Linked DNA regions of Homo sapiens. The protein of the gene in region 2 interacts with the protein of the main gene of each other region in a pairwise test. Each region holds a gene or a part of one and is shown on either strand. Other genes may lie near its edges.

Region 1 (4,113 bases), on a different chromosome or scaffold from region 2:
TCGTTTTATAAAATGCACAGCCAAGCAAGCTCTTCCCTATGGCAAACTTGTACACATAGTACACATAATTGTTTCTAACCTGTGGCTCAGAACTTTAAATGGGCTTTTGGTAACTTGGTAACTAGCATCTAGTTTATTTTCTTTCTTTTTTTTTTTGAGATGGTGTCTCACTCTGTCGCCCAGGCTGGAGTGCAGTGGCGTGATCTCCACTCACTGCAAGCTCTGCCTCCTGGGTTCACGCCATTCTCCTGCCTCAGCCTCCAGGGTAGCTGGGACTACAGGCGCCTGCCACCACGCCCAGCTAATTTTTTGTATTTTTAGTAGAGACAGGGTTTCACCGTGTTAGCCAGGGTGGTCTCGAACTCCTGACCTCGTGATCCACCTGGCTTGGCCTCTCTCTCAAAGTGCTGGGATTACAGGCGTGAGCCACCGCGCCCGGCTGCATCTAGTTTATTTTCATCTGGCACGGCAGGCTGTTGAGGTTTTACATCTTGAGCAAGAATAACAGCCACCATCCAATGGGCACATACTCTGAGGTAGGCACTATGCTGCTTGCTGTTCATTTGCTCTGTCTCATTTAATCCTCACCCAACAACCCATTGAAGGCCATATTATTAACCCAGTTATTTTGTTTGTTTGTTTGTTTGTTTTTGTTCTGAGACAGCCTTACTCTGTCACCCAGGCTGGAGTGCAATGGCGCGATCTCAGCTCACTGCAACCTCCGCCTCCCAGGTTCAAGCGATTCTCCTGCCTCAACCTCCCGCATAGTTGGGACTACAGGCGTGTGCCACCACACCCGGCTATTTTTTTATATTTTTAGTAGAGACGGGATTTCACCATGTTTGCCAGGCTGGTCTTGAACTGTTGAACTCGTGATCTGCCCGCCTCGGCCTCCCAAAGTGCTGGGATTACAGGTGTGAGCCACTGCGCCTGGCCTTTTCCCAGTTTTATAGGAAACTTTGGCTCAGAGGTGTTAAATCACCTGTCCAAGATCACAGAGCCAGTGAGTAGAAGATCTGGGAGTTGAACCAACACAGACTCCAGGCACCACATTTGTAACCCGTGTGCTAAATTAGATGCAGGTACAAGGAGGTCAGACACTTTAGCTGATTGGCTAAAGAATCTGGTTGATGCTACCAACCTAATTTGTGTGCATATGAGGGAGGCCTGTGGCTCAACACACACATTCTTTGGAGAGAGGATCATCTACAAGATTAATGAATTCAAGTAATTATTCATTCCATTTCCATCTTTCCCATCACTGCTTTGTTCCTGCTCTGTCCCCTATACTTGTCACCATGCTGGCATGAAGGACATTTCCAAGAAATCCTTGTTGGTTGAATGAGTCATAGAGAAGAAAAGAAAAGTGAAAGGAAGAAGGACCAGGGAGGGAAAGGGGATGGGTGGAAGGAAGGAAAGCGCTAAAGGGGCAAGAGTGAAAGAAGAAACAGGAAGAGGCTAGGAGATGGATGGGTGGAGGAGCGACCTCCCCAGCCTCTCCTCCACAGACTGCCTCAAATGTACCCGTGAGAATCCCCAGGTTTCCCAGTATCCTCCTCCCCCAATAAAATATCCTGCCTTCAGCCTTCACTTCAGGAGCTTCTCCCAAAGAGCTAAGGGCCGGCTGAAGCCCACCCCTACCCCTGCCTGACCCCTTGCCCTGCACACCCTTAAGTGGGCTCTGGGCTCTGCCCTATTCTCAGAGCCTTCCTCAGCTTCCTGGCCTGGCCTCAGAGCTCAGTGCTACCTTCCTGCCCCACTTCCTCTTCCTGCCTCCAAGTTCCCTGGAGATAAGGCCATCCAGGCATTGACCCCTAGCCAGGCCACATCCATCACACCTCTGTCAGTTTCTCCAAGGCAAAATCTTAAAGCACCAAGCCTACTTCCTGCCCAGTCCATTTTCCCAGGAGCCCTAGGGAAAGGGAGAAACTGGCACCAGCTGTTCCTGACATCTTTGCCTTGGAGATGGCAAGTGAGGACAAAGGCCAGGATCTGCAGCAGGAGTGGGGATGACTCAACTCAGGAATGTGTCACTAGGTAGAGGTTAGCAGGGAGTCAGGCCTGTGCCATACACTGATAACTTCAGTGGAACTTTCAGAGTAAACATCTCCCTTTCTCTTTCTCTAGGGGAGGAGTTCGCCCTCCAACACCCTGCCATGGGGCTGGAATGGCCTCTGCCACCCCATCTGCTCAAGTTTCCAACTCCTGAGCCAGGCTTGGCTCCTCACAGCTGCGGAAAGGGCTGACGAGGTCGTTACATTTCCTACCACTTCTTAGCAGTGGGTTCTGAGTGCCAGGCGGGTCTCTGCCACTGTGGCTCCTTTAACCTCGCAAGGACCCAACAAGGCAGGTATTACTGACCCCACTTCACAGACGCGGAAAAGGAGGCTCAGGGAGGTTAAGTGACTTGTCCCGGGTCACAGAGCTGGGATCCCAGCCCGGAGTCCGACTCCAAAGTCGGTGCTCTTAACCGCTTTGCTTCAGGAGAATGGGGAGCCCGAGTCCCGCTCGCTCTGCGCGGTGCAGCCAGGACGGGGCTCACGCATTTCTCTCCCATGCGGCGCGCAGGGAGTGGAGGGTCCGCCCCGTCCTGCTCCAGCAGTGGTCACCGCCTCAGGTCTGGCCCTCGTGGGCCCCAGGGGAGGCCCCAGCCCGCGGACTTTGGACTCCTCTCTCCCACCCTCGCCACTCGCCCTCTGCCCGTCGCAGGGCTGGCCGGCCCCGCCTGGGCCCTCACCATCGCTGCTGCCGCCGCCGCCTCGCCCGCTCCCGGCTTCTCTGCCTGCGGAGCGGCCGCAGTGCCAGCGGCCCCGGAGGAAGAGCAGGGGCGGGGCGGGGCGGGCCGCCGAGCGAGGGCGGGGGGCGCGCCTTCCGCGAGTGGCGACAGAAACCAAGTCAAATCGAAAGCGATGGGCCACAGCGACCTGGGTCCGTAGAGTCGGACCCTCCCGGGCCCCAGGAGCCTGAATTCGGATGACACCTCTGCCTGGTGAACGGGCACACCTCGGGGCCGGATCTGTGGAATGGGCACAGTGGAGTGAGCCCTGGAGTCTTCTAGCTCGAGTTCAGCTGAAAAGGCATCATTCATTCACTCAACAAACACCCTATGAGTGCCACGGTCAGGCACCATACTAGGTCCTGGAGACGCCATGAACAAGCCAGGCAGGGTCTTTATCACCCTGGTGAGTGCATCTCACCCAGAACCAAAAACAGGCACCCAAAAAGTTTTGAAACTAAAGACAAGTGGTGGTTGCACAACATTCTGAATACATGTCACTGATCTGTACACTTTAAAATAACAAACTGTACATTGTGTGACTTTCACCTCTATTCAAAAAGAAAGCAGCCCCACATGGGCAAAGTACTAGCTCTAGCCTTTCTGTATGTCTTTCCTCACCATGAGGGCAAGTGCAGCTCTGTGCTGTCATGCACCCGCCATGCACTTGCTCCTCAGTCAGAGGATGGGGGAGGCTGGTGTATCTACTACCACTTCAGAGCCTTCCTGAGCCGAATCTACCCATCCTGTCCTCTCACTGCTACAGAGAAACCACCAGCTACCTGTTCTCCACTACTCCAAGCTGCCTCGGACATCTTAAAATAAGGTCCCTCGTTTTTTTTTTTTTGTTTGTTTGTTTTTTTTTTTTGAGAGAGACAGGGTCTCACTATGTTGACCAGGCTGGTCTCGAACTCCTGGCCTCAAGCAGTTCTTCTGCCTCAGGTTTCCAAAGTGTTGGGATTACAGGTGTGAGCCACTGGGCCTGGTCCCTCAAGTGAGGCCTCTCTTGACCAACAGAATTGAAAGTTTCCCTCTCTGGGGCTGAGCCTCTGTGAATACAGAAGTCCCAGACCAAGAGGGTTTCACAGACACTCACCCCCACCTTGGACAGCCTGGGTCCCAAGGCAGAAGCTTCACTTCAGTTCCTTACACCTTGAATCCAGGAGAGAGAGGATTAACATGTTGTAGCAAAGACTACCCCAAGCCTGGGCACAGTGGCTCACACTTGTAATCCCAGCACTTTGGGAGGCCAAGGTGGTAGGATTGCTTGAGCCCAGGAGTTTGAGACCAGCCTGGGCAACACAGTGAGACCATGTCTCTACAAAAAATACAAAAAT
Region 2 (3,500 bases):
GGGCATTCTTCTCTCCATTATTTGCTTTAGTTTCACTGTCTATGTTCATACCTGTCAAAATTGAAAACAAATATTTATGACAGAAACATAGCAGGAATTACCAATACTAATCAATTTTTCTTCTGCCAAAAATTCCTCTCACAGTCTATACCATGTTTTGCTTCTTGGCCTAACTAAAAGAATCAATAAACTTTTAGTCCCCTTTGAAAGAGAAAGTCAGAGAGTAACAGAGAAGGAGATCAGAGGTAGAAAGGAAAGCCAGTAAGATAAGACAAAAATAAGCAAGAAAGACAAGGAAGATTGCTGAGCAAGAGAGAGTGTGAGACAGACAGAGAAGAGGGAAAAACCAGAAAAAGCACAGAAGTTATTCTTCTTTGGAAATGTAGAGCAGCACCAATTCTTTTCCTCTCTCTCCTTATACTGAGGGGTTCCCACTCCCCCTACCCCGCACCTTGGTATTAAGGTTTTTAATGCTTGGAAATGGTTTAAATGATGGGCAGGGTAAAGACTGTCAATATTCCCACAAGGCTGCTGCAAAGGCTCTCGGTAGACTCCCGTAGCCTCTGCCAAAAGCAAACCCTACCTTGGAGCTCTGCCGTCTGGTTCCCCTGCTCCTCTCTCATCTCTGCAGACATGGGAGTTTTGCCATCAACAACATCCATCTTGATCATGCCAAGGTTTGTCAGGAGTAGCATTGGGTCGATCCCCTGACCACTGCTCTTAATATTCTCCAGTACCTTAAGACACTTGTATGACTTGACCTCACTTATATTTTCCTCCAAGAAGAGATTGTAGAGGCTCAAATCGTTGTACCCTTCAGATTTGAAATGCAGAACATCAAAAGTGGGGAGGATTTCGTACACTTTGAGAACATCTGTCTTCTGTCGGAATGGAACAAACAGCGTGTAGACAACCACGGGAGCCAGCAGGACATAAACCACAAGGTTAATGACACTGAGCAACTGGAAGATGCCCACGGCAATGAGTTTGCACTGAAACTGATCGGGCACGGTGCTGTCGTTTCTCAGGATCCCTGATTTGATGCTGCACACAAACTCGTCTGAGAGTGAGGAGAGGCTGAAGTAATAGCCCAGGTAGATACACGCTAACAGTATAATGATGAGTGTCAGCAGGCGGCAGCTAATGTACTTGATGATTAAATTATTAGAATTTTTCTTTGTCTTCAAGTACTGCTCCACAATTGGGTACTTGAAGTGGCTTTCAGATACCTCCCACAAACTAAAAAATAAAGGAAACAAAAATAACTTAGGCACTCATCAAGACCATCAAATATTAAAGGCAGATACACATTCAACAATGTCACACTAAAAATTTCAAACACCCATACTTCTTTACCTACAACGTCAGTAGTCAAAAATAAAATCCGTTTAAAAGAGGAGGAAGAAAAGGAATAATAAAATGCTTTTCCCCTTAATATTTAACAGAAGGCCTAGTTAATTAAATGAGTTAATATTTGGAAATTTTTAGAGTGATGCCTGGCATCTGGTAAATCCTAAATATGTGTAAGCATACGCCTCTTACAGGCAAGGGGTGGGACAACTCAGGGGGTATGGGCAAAAACTATGGGGTCTAAAGGGCATGGTTCAGTTCCCAGACTCTCACTTACAGCTACAGAAGAGTATTTTTATCCAGAATAAAAGTGGAGGAGGAGGTTAACAAATGCACTAGTAATGTTGCTCTGAGGGTTAAAGGAGATAATGTACTTAAATAACTCAATACGGTGTGTGAGATATATTAAATATTCAAAAAATGATGGCTCTTATTATTATTCCAATTATTCAATAACAAGAACCAAAAGAAGGTTGTGAAAAGGCAAGCCACGACCTACTCATTCCCCATTTCTCTCTCATCCCTTGCTCAGCTGCCTTGAAATCCTCTGTGCGTCTCCATTAAGGAGTTAAATAGATCAAAGCAAGCAAGCTTCATATAGCACCTCAATCTGTTACCCCTACAAGAACTGCATTTTTAAAATGAGATGTAATGTTTCACTCATCAAGGGAATGAGTCTTGACAGAAGGATAAACAAATGGGTAGGATGGGTCGCGGTGAGATTTGGGGAGAGTGGACATCCCGGGATACTACAGGCTGTCACTAGGTGCATGACGTCCCCCTGCTTCCACTCCTGCCCCGCCTCCTAGCAATGAGAACTCTGGGCCCAGACTGGCAGTAGAAGGGCAGAGAATTTGTCCTACAAAACCCGATGAGCTGCCTGCTGGGGCTAAGTTACCTTTGCCCTAAGTTCTCGGTAACACCTGGAACTGAGCAGGCTCCATCTCTCATGTCAAGGTCACGCGCACTCTTTGCAGCCTTAATTGCACGGTTGTAAACTTTGTCAAGTTCTTCCATGATAAACTTCAAGTCTGAGCAAATATGAGGAGCAGCTGCGAAACGCCAGAACAGCGGGGGCAGGTACAGGAGGATCGCAAAGAGCAGCAGGATGTAGGGGAAAAACTGAAAAACAAGAGAACAAATCATGGGCTTAACAAACCCCCCATGCAGTAACCTATGGCGCCAAGTGATGCTCTCATTTTCTCACATCTTGAGACAAATGTGTATTGTGGAAATTGGGCTCATTACCTAATAACTACTTCTTATGGCTAAATTCCCCTGTCCAGGTAATACCTGTCACAGGTAACTACCTATTTTTTTTTCTTCCATAGGTATTAATTTGAAGTAATCAGCAACTGCATGGTGACACATGGTGTGTACGTTCTAATCACAGAAGGAAAATAAAAAAATAAAATTACTCCCGTTCCCTGAACAAAATCCCAGTTAAGAAACCTGCAGCTATCACGAAGGCTTCTGCTGGGTTTTTGTTAACTTTTATGGTTTTAAGAAGCAACTAAGGCATACGGCTCCATTTTTGCCCTACTCTGGAATCTGGGAAAATGCCAAAGAAACATGTAACTTCCCCCAAAACAAATTAGAAAAGCTTCGACTTCAGTGATTCAGTAATCATCCCAATAAGACAGCTGAAATAAGCAGTTGAATTCACAGAATGCAGAATGAATGTGGAACAGACTTTGAAGGCAGTCCAACACCCTCATCGTATAGTTGGATAAACTTGGGCTCAGAGAGGCCATCCACAACGGGCAAGGGAATCAAGAGGAGAGCATCCACATCAGGGTGCAGACACACACCAAACAAGAGGGGATTCACACGTCAGAGAGGGTGAGGAGCACCCCAGTAACCAGGACCACCAGTTGGTCAGAGGTGGCTTAGCCTCAGCAGAAGACTTAGGAAGACCGTAAATTGCAGTCAGTGCAGATCTGAATTGAAGCTCAGCATTGCGGCCTTGGGCAATCATGTCTACTCTGCAGAACTAAGTAGCTGCGACAGTGACCATGTGATCTGCAATGACAAAAAAACTTTATGATCTGGCCCTCTGCAGAAGTTTGCTGACCCTGGTCTAGGCCCTTGATGTCACTTTCGACTATCCTTTTGCGTGATCTTCTAATCAGCAATAAGACATAAGAGTA

The links. The genes of interacting proteins can lie anywhere in the genome.
Region 1: the proteins of PANX1 (region 2) and VAMP5 interact in binary tests that used the Homo sapiens proteins (3 or more experiments, as listed by UniProt).

Annotation. Positions count from the first base shown.
Region 1 is NC_000002.12:85,583,118-85,587,230, reverse strand, and holds the start of VAMP5 (vesicle-associated membrane protein 5), read right to left. Parts: upstream 2,801-4,113; 5' UTR 2,741-2,800; coding exon 2,738-2,740; intron 1-2,737. UniProt on the Homo sapiens protein: May participate in trafficking events that are associated with myogenesis, such as myoblast fusion and/or GLUT4 trafficking.
Region 2 is NC_000011.10:94,177,341-94,180,840, reverse strand, and holds part of PANX1 (pannexin-1), read right to left. Parts: intron 2,473-3,500; coding exon 2,249-2,472; intron 1,240-2,248; coding exon 584-1,239; intron 52-583; coding exon 1-51. UniProt on the Homo sapiens protein: Ion channel involved in a variety of physiological functions such as blood pressure regulation, apoptotic cell clearance and oogenesis.